4 linked regions of the Homo sapiens genome follow. The protein of the gene in region 1 interacts with the protein of each later gene in a pairwise test. Each region holds a gene or a part of one and is shown in the gene's direction. Other genes may lie near its edges.

The links. The genes of interacting proteins can lie anywhere in the genome.
Region 2: the proteins of TMEM132D (region 1) and PGM1 interact in a two-hybrid assay, tested with the Homo sapiens proteins (one large-scale study listed by BioGRID).
Region 3: the proteins of TMEM132D (region 1) and NPAS3 interact in a two-hybrid assay, tested with the Homo sapiens proteins (one large-scale study listed by BioGRID).
Region 4: the proteins of TMEM132D (region 1) and STK39 interact in a two-hybrid assay, tested with the Homo sapiens proteins (one large-scale study listed by BioGRID).

What each region holds. Positions count from the first base shown.
Region 1 is NC_000012.12:129,071,074-129,075,147, reverse strand, and holds the end of TMEM132D (transmembrane protein 132D precursor), read left to right. Parts: intron 1-72; exon of another isoform or gene 73-88; coding exon 89-1,273; 3' UTR 1,274-3,422; downstream 3,423-4,074. UniProt on the Homo sapiens protein: Regulate neuronals morphology via inhibition of the WAVE regulatory complex (WCR), a complex that controls F-actin cytoskeletal dynamics.
Region 2 is NC_000001.11:63,655,911-63,659,410, forward strand, and holds part of PGM1 (phosphoglucomutase-1), read left to right. Parts: intron 1-3,500. UniProt on the Homo sapiens protein: Catalyzes the reversible isomerization of alpha-D-glucose 1-phosphate to alpha-D-glucose 6-phosphate. The mechanism proceeds via the intermediate compound alpha-D-glucose 1,6-bisphosphate.
Region 3 is NC_000014.9:33,767,879-33,771,378, forward strand, and holds part of NPAS3 (neuronal PAS domain-containing protein 3), read left to right. Parts: intron 1-3,500.
Region 4 is NC_000002.12:168,241,096-168,244,595, reverse strand, and holds part of STK39 (STE20/SPS1-related proline-alanine-rich protein kinase), read left to right. Parts: intron 1-3,500. UniProt on the Homo sapiens protein: Effector serine/threonine-protein kinase component of the WNK-SPAK/OSR1 kinase cascade, which is involved in various processes, such as ion transport, response to hypertonic stress and blood pressure.

The sequences.
Region 1 (4,074 bases):
TTTTGCCGTTGTGTGTCTACTGTACTAAGACTTGGGGCTCAATGAGCTTTTTGGCCCATTTGATTAACTTACATATTTTTCTCCATAGGAAGCAGCCATCAGTTGCTGGGTCCAGTTCAGTGATGGCTCAGTCACGCCCTTGGATATTTACGATGGGAAAGACTTCTCCTTGATGGCCACATCTTTGGATGAGAAGGTAGTCTCCATCCACCAAGACCCCAAATTCAAGTGGCCTATCATTGCTGCGGAAACAGAAGGACAAGGCACCCTGGTCAAGGTGGAAATGGTTATTAGTGAATCCTGCCAGAAATCCAAGCGGAAGAGTGTGTTAGCTGTTGGAACGGCAAACATCAAAGTTAAATTTGGCCAAAACGATGCTAACCCCAACACCAGTGACAGCAGACACACAGGGGCAGGGGTTCACATGGAAAACAATGTCAGTGACAGAAGGCCCAAAAAACCCTCGCAGGAATGGGGGAGTCAGGAAGGACAGTACTATGGCAGTTCTTCTATGGGACTCATGGAGGGACGGGGCACCACGACAGACAGGTCCATCCTGCAGAAGAAGAAAGGCCAGGAAAGCCTTTTAGATGACAACAGCCACTTGCAGACCATCCCCAGCGACCTCACCAGCTTCCCAGCCCAGGTGGACCTCCCCAGAAGCAATGGGGAAATGGATGGGAATGACCTTATGCAGGCATCCAAAGGGCTGAGCGACTTAGAAATTGGGATGTATGCTTTGTTGGGAGTCTTCTGTTTGGCCATTTTGGTCTTCTTGATAAACTGTGTGACCTTTGCATTAAAATACAGACACAAACAGGTTCCCTTCGAGGAGCAGGAAGGGATGAGTCACTCTCATGACTGGGTTGGGTTAAGCAACCGGACAGAGCTGTTGGAGAATCACATCAACTTTGCCTCCTCGCAAGATGAGCAAATCACTGCCATTGACAGGGGCATGGATTTCGAGGAAAGTAAATATCTCCTCAGCACAAACTCCCAAAAAAGCATCAATGGGCAGCTGTTCAAACCTTTGGGACCCATCATCATTGATGGGAAAGATCAGAAAAGTGAGCCCCCAACATCCCCTACCTCAAAAAGGAAAAGGGTAAAATTTACCACCTTCACCGCCGTCTCCTCAGACGACGAGTACCCCACCAGGAACTCCATCGTGATGAGTAGCGAGGATGACATTAAGTGGGTCTGCCAGGATCTGGACCCTGGGGACTGCAAAGAGCTGCACAACTACATGGAGAGGTTACATGAAAATGTGTAAGCCAGACACACACAGACATTGGTTCTCACTCACCTTTCAGCCTTTAATTCCAGGATGTGTAGCAACGGTGCCCCCGGAAGAGAAACAAAGCAGCAGGACAAAATAAGGATGACACTATCCATACAGCCTCAGCCAATGACCCCGGCTCGGCGGCGAGGCCTGGAGTCCGCATCGACGCACACATTCCAGAGTACAGTGTCTTGCTTAAGAGGTTTATCATGCATGGCAAGATTTTTAAGACTTGAAACAAAAACGAGTTCTGAATCACTGAGCGTCTGAGAGCGTCCAGGAAAGAACAGCCTCTCTCTCTCGAATCAAAGCAATTTGGATATTGTAAAATCCACATGGCTCCAATATTCAATATTGCAGACTATGGAAGAAAAGTACAACTCAGGTGGAGCATCCATGGATCGCATCCATGGATCAATGGGAGGAAGCGTGTCATCGAAACTGGAGCAGCACATCTTGCTGTGAGCGCGATCACAGGCAGTCCAGTGCCGCCGTCAGCTGTGGGAGGCATGATTGTGAGTCATTGTCTCTCAAAGGCTGGGCCAGAGCTGTCTCAGATCATGGACAGGCCAAGGAAGTGGCTGACAAGGACTGAAAGGGAACATGTGGGCTAACAGGCCACAAATACCTTTGTAACTACATGCCAAGGACAAACACATGGACGCAAATCCTCTGAGCCCTTCAGGGTACTTCTTTATTTGTAAACTAAGGATACTGGGCATAGAATTTGAATCAGGTTCAAAGAACCACGCTCTTTTGATTCATATCAAGTTCACAATGTATCCATTTCTATTCCTCCACTGCATTGCCATCCTCCCCAAAGCCGTTGGTCACCTGTGGGTGGGGGAGGGAGAGGGCAGTTTGTAGTATTTGCTGGGTCTTTTTTCTCCCCCTGGGTTTTGTGTCAACTCCCAAGTGACATTCTGTAGAGAAGCTCCCCCCGCAACCTGGGCATATGTCCCACGCCGTCCGTCTTTGAAGAGGCTGGTCTCTAGGCATGGGCGGTAGTCACGGTGAATTCCATACCAGGGGATATACATTCCCTTGCTTTACTAGAAAGAAAACAGGGCCACTTGGGATGGGTCTTTCACTGTTCATGGCAGATCTCCTGTCCAAAGATGTGGCCTCGAGGCTGTTGAGACAAATCGGGGTGCCTGTGTGGAACGTGCAGGGCGTGTGGAGTTGGGGGGGTTCTGGGTGTGAAAGTGGTGGATCCAGCAGGAAGCCCAGCCTCACACACACCGGACAGCACAGAAACCTTCTTCATCTTGGAGGTGCGAAGGGATAAGGGGCATCAGTGCATGTGGTGAAGATGCAGGTTTGCAAGCACTTGGTCCTGCAGTCAGCCCCGAAAGGTTCAGCATTGCTTAAGACCAGCCATGACTCTGGATATCCCTGAATCCCTTCACTTATGAAGCCTATGAAGATGGGGGCAAGGATACATCAGAGAATTCCTGCCTCATCTCACGCTCACTCCAAGGTAGAGAATGGTGTGTTGGGTGATTGCCAGCCAGATAGGATCCTGCAAAAGATGGTCGGGGGCAGCGGGTGGTGGGCAGAAGAGGCCGTGCTGTTGAATTGATCTTCTATTTTTCCCTCTGGTCATTTTCTCTCTCTCTCTGCTCTTCAGTTGTCTGTTTTCCAGTCTCTCTGTGTGTCTGTCTCTGTATCTCTCTCCTCCTTTGAACCTATCTTCTCCCTGCTTCCTCTCCATCTCATCTCTGTAATTTTGAGTGTGTGTCTTTACTCCTTCTTCCTCTCCATAGAATTGAATTCTCTTTAGATCATGTGTGTGTAAATTTCACCAGTTTACCCTCCCAACCTTAGCCCTCTCCCCTGCAACTGTGGTGCTCTTGAGACTGAGGTTTCTGCAGCCAGTAAGTCACCTGCTCCTGTCCGCAAGCTTACCTACCTTGTTTGGTTGGGTGATTAAGCTGTCACCCCTTTTCAATGAGAATCCTTTGCTTTCAGTAACGTCCTCATATTTCTTTCCATTCTTACCTGTGTCATGTTCTGTTGAATACTGCAGCCGCTGCCCGCTTCCAAATCCATCTGCGTGTAGAATGTACTGTAGATTGTAAGAATGTAATATATATTTATAAACTTACTGACTGTAAATATAAAGTTTGCATTCAGTGGCTTTATGGCTGTCCTTTGTCTTCTACACGCTGACCCCCTCCAAGGGGCTGGCATCAATTGCAAATGGCTCTGCAAATGCTGCAGCTCTAAATGAAATGCTGATTGAAGGATCCCAGCACAATCCAGTTCCACCTTTACATCGTGTAGTGCTGCTCCCTGCATTGAGGGGATGTTGACACGTGATGACAAAGTGCATTGTGTACCAAGTATCTCTCCTCCAGGACCTGAAAGGATTTGCAAATAAATCACACGTGCAATTCTCTCCTAAAAGCCTGCTGACTGATGGTGGTAAGTAAGTGGAAACTGTGGCAGGCAAGCATGCATTCCAGCCTCCTTTTGGGCTGAGGTGAGGAAAATTCTCTGTCCTTCCTTTGGGTCTCGAGTGTACATACAACAACTCTGGACTGGGTTAAAAAGTTGATTGTAGATTCCTTTATCAACTGCAGCCCCAAGACAATTCTACGAAACAAGAAGATGCATGGAATCCTTATATTCATGCAAACAATAGCAAGTGATTGATAGGTCAATCATTTATTCAGCCAGTATTTACTGAGCAGCTACTCTACTCTGTAGCAGGAATAGCTGTGAGCACTAGAGACAGAGTCACACATACAGCAAATGCACATGCACTCTCCAAAACCTTACTTATATCT
Region 2 (3,500 bases), on another chromosome or scaffold:
CAGGTTGCATAAGGAGGGGTGAACCGGCCCAAGTTGGAAACAGAGCAGGTCAAAACTCCCATGCCGATGAGTAGTGGGATTGCACCTGTGAATACCCACTGCGCTTCAGCCTGGTGACATAGCAAGACCCCATCTCTAAAAAAAGAAAAGGAAAGAAAAAAAGAGGGTGCTGAGAAGACTTGCAGTAAAGGTGCCTGTTTACATAGCATTTGCTGAAGGACATTTCTCCAAAGAAAACATACAAATGGCCAACAGGCGTATGAAAAGGTGGTCCACATCACTAATCATCAGGGAAATGAAAATCAAAACCACAATGAGCTGTCACCTCACACCTGTTAGGATGGCTGTTCTCAAAAAGACAAAAGATAACAAGTGTTGGGAAGGATGTGGAGAAAAGGGAACCATCAGACACTATTGGTGGGAATATAAATTGGTATAGCTATTTTGGAATAACCAAAATATGGAGGTTCCTCAAAAAGTTAAAAATATTTTAGTACTAATATACGATCCAGTAATCCCTCTTCTGGGTATATATTCAGAGGAACTGAAATAAATATGTCAAAGAGATATCTGTTCTCTCTTGTTCATTCAATATTATTCACAATAGTCAAGATATGGAACCAGCCTAAGTGCCCATCTACAGATGAATGAAGACATTGTGGTGTGTGTGTGTGTGTGTGTGTGTGTGTGTGTGTGTATACCACAATGGAAAATTATTCTGCCTTAAAACAACAAAAACCAAAATCTTGCCAATCTTGCCATTTGCAATAACATGGATGAACCTGGAGGACATTATGCTAAGTGAAATAAGCCAGACACAGAAAGGCAAATACTGCATGATTTCACTTGTATGTGGGATCTAAAAAAAGTGAATCTCATAGAAACAGAGCAGAAAGGGGCTTACTAGGGGGTAGTGAATGGGGAAAATGGAGAGATATTGGTCCAAAGGGTACAAAATTTCAGTTATGTAGGATGTAGCAGTTCTAGAGATGGAATGTACAACATGATGGCTATAATGAATAACACTTGAAATGTACTAGGAGAATAGATCTTAATTGTTCTCACTATCACCACCACAACAAAAAAGGTAAGTAGGTGACAAGATTGATAATGTTAGTTGGCTTGACTCTAGTAATCAGTTCACTATGTATTTGTATATCAAGACATCATATTATATACCTTAAACATAAACAATTTTTATTAAAAAATTGAAAGTAAAATAAAATAAATAGCATTTGCCATGCTTATTTTTCCACAAAGGCTTTTTTCTTTTAACACCTAATTAAAATCCTGTGAAACTCATTTGGAAACCCCTGGCATAGTGGTTTTGAGCAAAGTTAAAGAGATCTTGTTTTAAATTCTATTCCTGCCACTTAATAACTGTGTGTCCCTGGGTAAGTTGTTACAATTTTATGAATCTTGGTTTCCTTGTCTGTCAAATGGCAGAGTAATACCTACTTCATCTAGTTGTTACCGGGGTTTAAGGAGATAATAAATGTAAAATGTTTAAACACTGTGGCTGGCATATAGGATTAACTTTTCAGAATAAGCAGCACTCTTAGTTTTTTTAGTCTAACTTTAAGTGTAACATAATGCTATTATAACCATTTTTAAGTATATAGTTTAGTAATGTTGTACATATTCATATTGTTGTCCAACGTATCTCTAAAACTTTTTTCCCCCAAAACTAAAACTCTGTACCCATTGAACAGCACCTCCCTGCTTCTCCCTTTTCACAATCCCTGGTACCACCTTTCTCCTTCCTGTGTCTGTGAATTTGACCATTGTAGGTACCTCACATGAGTAGTATAGTTGCTTTTATTACAGAAAGTGGGAGATGAGAGAATGCTTCACTTTTACATTTTTTCCAGTGGCCAGGCCCCAGTTTCAGTCATCACCAGTACCTTGTTGTGTTGTAGGCATCCCTAAAACTTCAACCAAAGGCAATGGGGTCTGCATTATAGACACTTAATAGCACAAGAGAAAAGGAAGAAGGAAATTGTGTTTGTCTTTTGATCATCAAGATAAATGCCTGGCACGTGGTAGATTCAAAGAGTGAATGAAATTTGTTTCCTCTGAACCATAGTCCTCAGCAGGTGGAATGGCAGTGGATGGTGTGAGGTTCCCACAATGCCCAGGTGTATCACCATCTAGCCGGGGAGCTGCCTTTCCTTATTCTGCAGCTGCTAGGCCATCAGCACTTTGTGGGGACTGCCCAAGCCCTAAGGGGAAATGTGGTAGTTTCAGCAGGTGGAGTTGATTCTCCTTTTCCAGGTATAATGGATCGGTGGAGATTTAGATAAGAAAAAGTAGCATTCAGCAGTAGAAAATGTACTACTCCTGGCTCTGCTATTGAGTCATTTAGTCAAATCACTTCATCTCTTTGGGTATCAGTTTTCTCATCTGTAAAATGGGCAGTTCAACCAGATTAGTAGTTTTTTTTTTTTTTTAATATTGAAAGCATTTATTAAGCAACAGAATTCTCTCTTTTTTTTTTTTTTCTTTAAGCGAGAAGTAGATGTGGGGAGGGGTTGTTGCATTTTTAAAGATTCCTGTATTAGGCCGGGTGCGGTGGCTCACGCCTGTAATCCCAACACTTTGGGAGGCCAAGGCAGGCAGATCACCTGAGGTCGGGAGTTCAAGACCAGCCTGACCAACATGGAGAAACCCCATCTCTACTAAAAATACAAAATTAGCCGGGCGTGGTGGCGCATGCCTGTAATCCCAGTCACTAGAGAGGCTGAGGCAGGAGAATTGCTTGAACCTGGGAGCCAGAGATTGTGGTGAGCCAAGATCGCAGCATTGCACTCCAGCCTGGGCAACAAGAGTGAAACTCCATCTCAAAAAAAAAAAAAAAAGATTCCTGTATTAGTCTGTTTTCACACTGCTGATAAAGACATACCTGAGACTGGGCAATTTACAAAAGAAAGAGGTTTAATTGGACTTACACTTCACGTGGCTGGGGAAGCCTCACAATCATGGTGGAAGGCAAGAAAGAGCAAGTCATGTCTTACATGAATGGCAGCAGGCAAAAGAGAGAAATTGTGCAGGGAAACTCCTGTTTTTAAAACCATTAGATCTCATGAGACCCATTCACTATCATGAGAACAGCACAGAAAAGACCCACCCCCATGATTCAATCATCTCCCACCGGGTCCCTCCCACAACACTTGGGAATTATGGGAGCTACAAGATGAGATTTGAGTGGGGACACAGAGCCAAACCACATCAGTCCCATTGGGAACAGTGTGGGAAAGAAATTGGAAGATGCACAAGTGGATGTGGAGGCACTCACTGCTCCAGGTAAGAGACAGGACATTGACTTAGCAAGACTTAACAGCAGGAGAGTGGAGAGAAAAGGGGGCCATGGAGAGAGATTTAGCGGGGAAAAGTCATTGAGGCCTGCTCATGGACTGGGCATGGGGAAAATGCAGAGGAAGATGTCAGGAGCAACTCCTAGTTGTTCACTTTACATGAAAGACTGTAGTGTTGATCCACTG
Region 3 (3,500 bases), on another chromosome or scaffold:
TATTAGTGGAGCACATCTAAGAGTGTATCACCAACAGAAAACTGAAAGGAGCATATGGCAGGAACAGAAATATACATTTGCCCAAATAATGTGGCTTGTTAACACTCCCACATTCATCCTAAACTCTGCGGACATGCATCTAACAGCATCACACACAGTCACTCCTTGCAGCAGAGAAGAAAAATAAAAGTCAAACAATGATTTCCTCACTATGGGATGATCAAATAATGCTAATGTGGACATTTTTATCAAAGATGATGGGATTTCAACTCAGTAATCTTGTGCATTCTGCTTCACTGTTGCTGGCATCCGGGCAGTGCTGTGTAAGGAGTTTAGAAAAATATGAGCTTTAGCATTTTTGTACAGCTTTTTGTGATAAAACAGGAACAATGAAAGGAAACATGAGGATCGAGCTCTTATGTAACACTGAGCTCAGGGGCAAAGAATCTTTTAGTTCAGAAAGCTCTTCTGAAGAATGTCTGTAGATGAGATTTAAGACCAGATTAAGATGAACTTTTTGAACACTGAGGCAGCTTTTACCCAGCATTGGCCAGAACCAAAGCTTATTTCAATTCAAATATGATCTATAAGATCCCTACTAATGAATTATTAAGCTGAATTTATCAATTTGCAGCTGTATTCTGAAACTCCTGCCCCCACTATGGGGCTGTAAAGGAGGAGGTGGGGTAATGCTACAGCACAGGAAGTGCCACTCCATTAGACATTTGGTTATAGAACTCCCTAGAGATGAGTGAGAATTGTAGGCATCATTGCCTGATTCTTTGACACCATTTTATATCTGAGGAAATCCTACCCTCACCAAGCTAGAAGACTTGCCAAAGTTACCAGAACCAGGACTGAAAACAGATGTTCTGTTTCCCAATACAATGTTATTTTTACCGCCCCCCACCAATATTCCTTTCATTTTAAAGTAGATTCTTTTTATAGTTTCATGGCTCTTGACATATTAGAATCTAGGCTTATATATTTGTATTCACCATCATTTTACATTCACCTACTTAACTTTACAAGGAAGCCATATCCATTCTTTGATATGTTAGCACTGGGATTGGTGGTGGTATGGCAAGCCTGGCATTTATGTTAGAATGGAATTGTGGATGGAGAAAAAGGGTGCTTAAGAGCTTTCAGAAAAGTGCTATTTTTTAAACAAAATTATTCTAGAGCAAGAGGACCTCAATTTAGAGAATAACAAAAAACAAAAACATAAGTTGCCTGAGGCTTCAGCTACTCAAAGTGGGTAAAAATGCCTTTGGCACTCTTATGTATGTTTTCTCCTTTGGCAATTCTATTGAATTTCTTGGTTTTAATTATCACCTCCAGGAAGAAAAAAAAATAACCTTCCAGAACTATACCTTCAACTATCATCACTTAAGTGCCTAACTCTTATTTTCGACTATCCCCTGAACACCTTCTCCAGGATCTTCCCAGGCTGCTCAAGTACAAACTGTTCACAGGGAAATCATCTTTGTCTCCACTGGTTACCATTTGGTTACCATTTACCATTTAGTCTATTGTCGTCATCGTCCTGTGGGACAGGCACAAAAATTATGATACCAGCTCTTCTCCTCAGGTCCCATTGCCAATTTCCATTGATTGTACTGCCATCTGGGCCCCATCTCTGTCTTTTCTCCTGCTGACACCAATTGAAATGTTCCTGGATCCATTCAGCTGAAAGTATTTTCTTCCTACCCTGAACTCCTGAAGATCTTATTCCAAACCTTTCTTATGGAACATGCTTGTTAATTAATCAAACAGTATTTGTTGAGCATATAATACACATCAGGCATTATACCTAGGCACTTTGCACACATTTTCATTCCCTCCAACCAGCCCTGAAAGACTTGGATTTTTTTTTTCTTTTTTTTTTTTTTTTTTTTTTTTTTGAGACAAGATCTTGCTCTGTCATCCAGGCTGGCGTGCAGTGGCGGAATCACGGCTCACTGCAGCATCCATCTCCTAGGTTCAAGCAATCCTCAAACCTCAGCCTCCAAGTAGCTGGGGCCAAAGACATGAACCAATATGCCCAGCTAATTTTTTCATTTTTTGTAGAGATGGGAGTCTCCCTATGTTGCCCAAGCTGGTCTTGAACTCCTGGGCTCAAGCAATCCTCCTCCCTGAGGCTCCCAAAGCACTGGGGTTACAGGTGTGAGCCACAATGCCCAGCCTGGAAAACTTTAAAAATGTCTATGAATATTGATGCCAGTGCCCCACCACCTGAGATCCAGATTTAACAGGTCTCAGGTACAGCCGGGACAGGGGGACTTTTCAAGACTTGCTGGTTTATTCCAATGTGTAGCCATGGTTGAGAACCACTGGTGTAACTGCAAACCCATTTGCCAGATATTCTCAGGTAGTTAGTATCACCTCTGAAGCTTTAAAATGCAAACAAATGCTGGACTGTAACCCAATCCTATCAAATTAGAACTCTGGGGGATAGAGTCTGGGAATTCACATGTTAACAAAGCTTCGCAAGTGACTCTGTCACATAACCAGGATCAAAACCCCCTTTCTTGATCAGATACTGAATCATCTCCCTCTTATGGCAATATTAGAAATAATTATAGATGTCTTCCCCCAACTTACAGTCTGTAAACTCTTTGAGGACAGATTTACATTTGATTTACCTTGGTCAGCTTCCTGGCACCTAGCAAGGTCCCTCATAGATTATGTGTCTTAGAAACTAAAGAACCAGGAAAATACCTTTTGTTAACTTTATTCAGAAAAAAAGAACTGCCAGGCACAGTAATCCCAGCACTTTGGGAGGCCGAGGTGGGCATATCAATTGAGGTCAGGAGTTCAGGACCAGCCTGGCCAACATGGTAAAACCCAGTCTCTACTAAAAATACAAAAATTAGCTGTGCATGGTGGTGCATGCCTGTAATCCCAGCAACTCGGGAGGCTGAGGCAGGAGAACTGCTTGAACCTGGGAGACGGTGGTTGCAGTGAGCCGAGATCACACCACCGCACTCCAGCCTGGACTACAGAGTGAGTAAGACTCCATCTCAAAACAAAACAAAACAAAAAATCTTTGCAACACACTTATTTTTTTGTACTAGGTTTTAAATCTTTGATATACTAACCTGGAAACAAAGCAAGTCATTTCAATTGTCTTAGTATCACAGTTGTGCGGCTATTAAGTGCCAGAGCTAGGATTTGAACCCAGGCCATCTTGACAATATTCTTTTCTGTACATCTCAGGCCTTAAAGGCAACTATAAAATGAAAAATTCAGCGATCTACATGTTTGGATACATGCTGTCAGACTTGTTTCTGAAATTTGAACATAACCTGTCACCTGAGGAAAAAAAGCTCTGTTGGCATTATGAAATGAATTTGGAAAAAAATATGTTAATTTAAACCTAAAAATTGTGGGATCTAACAGATATCCCTTTCTTCTCTTCAATTCCACCCTCCCTCAAACCCACACATACACACAGACAGACAAACACACCCTCTGATTGTTCTTTGACATTTCTTGAC
Region 4 (3,500 bases), on another chromosome or scaffold:
TTTTGCTTAAACATTACACGCAGAAGTTAGCAGTTCAAACACTGAACCAGTTTCAACATGAATGCCAGTTGACAGCCTTTGCTTCTACCCGCCATACGGCAGGTGTCATATGATATGACTCCAGCAGTGTGAACCGTGACCAGCAGCAGGAGGCTCAGATGTGCCTGAACAGAAAACCAAAGGAGGCACCGTGTTTTAACTTTCCAGCATGGCACGGGCACGGAGGACTTTTTCTTCATTTCCTTCTGGGCAGAGTTTGGTCCCCCAGGATTAAGAGAGAATAAGTTTACTAAAATCCAAACAAAGCAGGTTCAGTTGTTTGACTTCAGTTTTAGAAAAATAAACACAGGATTTTGCAAACCTAAAAATAAAGTTTTCTCTTTATTGTATTGTTGTTCTTGTGTTTTAAAACGTCAGTGGAGAAATTGTAATGCTCTTAGGAGTATTCTGGTTCATAAGTTTATTCATGACCTGGAAATGATGTAAAATCGATGGGAGGGAGCTTTATATTTACAGAGGGGTTAAAAATGTTGGAAATTATTAAATTCCTTCTTCCAGACATTGATATCCTTGTCTTAGTAGATTTCAAATATTTCTGTCTTTTTGGAGGCTTTCCGACCTGTTTATACTCTTCAGCCTTGTTAATCTTTGTTCCTTACCTCTCTAAAGAAGGAATTTGGGGGTGAGTTGAGCCCCCAAAAGTAGGTACCCCTACCTTTAGAAGTATAAGGGGCACTTAAAGCTATGCCAGTTGAAAACTTAGTTTATTTGTTGGGGGTGTTAATAATATTACCTAGATTTGCTAAACAGGGAATGAAAGTGAATCATATAAGTGTTTACTTGGCCATCCGTAATGGAATGGAGCAGCCTCAATGAACTTCTCATTCAAAGAATTGTAGTCATTGAAGTACTAATTTCTGTATTTGAATTAGGTGATTCCAGCAATGTTGTTATCTTTGCTGAATTTCTTCTGAGAAACCCTAGACTCCTGCCTCAGCAGGAGTTTGTTTGATTTTCTTAGGGTTTTTGCAGGATGCACCTTTCTTTATGTAGTTTTATACTAGATTTCTCAGCATTGCTTCACTTTTGTCCCGGGTGGTCATTTAGAATGACCTAAAAGTAACAAATTGCCATCTTAGTCAACACGAAGAATTTGAGTTCTAGAATCCTGGACATGGTTTGACAGAGGGTTCCTTTGAATGCTTTATTTCTCTCCTGTGAGGCATTGTTTATCCATTCAGGTGCGTTTTACTCAGGTCCAGGTAATAGCACATATGGCCAGGTCTTTAAGGAGCAACAGCCTCTTGTAAAATGAGATTGTAAATAGCCCTGGGCATTCCCACTTTGCTCTGTGCTCTCAGAGTTTCTGTGGATTTCTATGGTTTGGGGGTTAGAATTGGTTTTTATAGATATCCTAGAGGCAGTTTGAGGACAGTGGTACCTTCGCTGGCGCTAGGGTAAGGGAGCCGGAGCACTGAGTGTGTTCTGATCTCCCAGACCTTTATACCAGGCTGCCTTGCTGCTGCAGTGGGTTCTTTGATCTTGATTAGTTTGTTTGTTGTTGTTTTTAAAATACTAAATGATGTCTGAAATGCTTTGTCTCAAGACAGGGCTTTGATTTTCATTTCATTTCACTTTCTTTTTTAATAAATAGAAAAATGTATATAGAAATGTTCTTTTGTATTTTGTATTTTTTTTTTTTTGATAAAGGGTCTCACTCTGTCACCCAGGCTAGAGTGCAGTGGTGCAATCATACCTCACTGCAGCCTCGAACTCTTGGGCTCAAGTGATCTTCCCACATCAGCCTCCTGAGTAGCTGGGTCTATAGGTGCAAACCATCATGCCTGCCTAATTTTTTTTTTCTTTTTTTATTTTTAAGAAATGGGGGTCTCACTATGTTGCCCAAGCTGCTCTTGAACTCCTCCGCTCAGCGATGCTCCGGCCTTGGCTTCCCAATGTGTTGGGATTACAGGCGTGAGCCACTGTGCCTGGCCTCTTTATATATATATATATATATATATATATATATATATATTTTTTTTTTTTTTTGTAAGAGTCTTGCTCTGTTGCCTGGGCTAGATTGCAGTGGCGCCATCTCAGTTCACTGCAGCCTCTGCCTCCTAGGTCCAAGCAGTTCTCCTGCCTCAGCCTCCCGAGTAGCTAGTATTACAGGCCTGGCTAATTTTTGTATTTTTTGATAGAAACAGGGTTTCACCATGTTGGCCAGGCTGGTCACAAACTCCTGGTCTGAAGTAACCCGCCTGCCTCAGCCTCCCAAGTTGCTGGGATTACAGCGTGAGTCACTGTGCCCGGCCTCTTTTGTATTATTTTTATTGTGGTAAAATATACACAACAAAAATTGTACCATTTTAACCGTTCTTAAAGTGTGCAATTCAGTAGCATTAATTATATTTACAAGATAAATACTCTTTTAAATGTGCTGTCATGGGGCTGGGGGGAGAGATCTCAAGATCTCTCTTGAAACTGTGGTAAAGTGACTGCAATCCTTTATTTATGCATTTGATTTTTAACTAGTGATATTATGAATTCTTCCCTGACTTTTATGGTTTATTGTATAGTACATTTTGTGATGGTGTTTGAAAATAAGTTGCAGCAGTGCCGGCTCTGGAGTCTGACAGCCTGGCCTGTTTCATGTCCTGCAATGGCGGTCACTGACGCTGCGACCTTGAGCAAATGACTTAGATGTGTCTGCACTCAGTTTCCTCATTGGTAACATAGGGATGATAAAAATAGGGTTGTGAGGAATGAGAGAATGTAAAGCACTGAGAATCGTGCCTGGCACACAGCATGCTTTCAATTAGTCTTAGCCATAACTTCTATAGACTTCATTTGCTAATCAGATGCAAGTTATCAGGAGAGAACACAGTCCTATCTTTGGCAGGATTCTGGAGTGGCTTGAAGATTTCTGTGCTATGTTTCTAGCAGGGAGGAAGTGGGAAAGAGAGGTTGTTCCCTATTCCCACTCTTGTGCTGGGCTGCTGGAAGGGGCTTACAAGGGGAGAGGCCCCTGGGGATCTGGCTTCCCCTTGCACCTCCACTGCTGTGGGAGGAAACTGAAGAGACCTGTGGAGCTCCTGGCAATTTGGACAGCTCAGGGGTTTAGGTGCCAAATGGCCCTCTGACAAGTGATGAGAGCATCCTGCGGGAAGGTTGCTGAAGAGGAGCAGCCCATTATGAGAGGGCTCCGAGAACAACCTGCTAGGACTGCACTTTTCCTCCACCTCTGAGTTTGCCCGGAGGCTGCCATGCTGGCAGGAAATGCTGCTGACTAAAAGAAACGCTCCCTGTGTGTCCCAGCCAGTGCGAGGACAGAGGCCTTCATTTTCAGATAAAGTCATCACCATTGCTTCCCTGTCTCCTTCTTTCCCTCTTTGCTTTTCCCTCAGTTTATAAATATTCTCAAGCCTGTCTCTTATGTTTAAATGACAAAAGAGAACAAAACAAAACACTCTCCCTACTTCTTTCTCCTCTGGCTACTC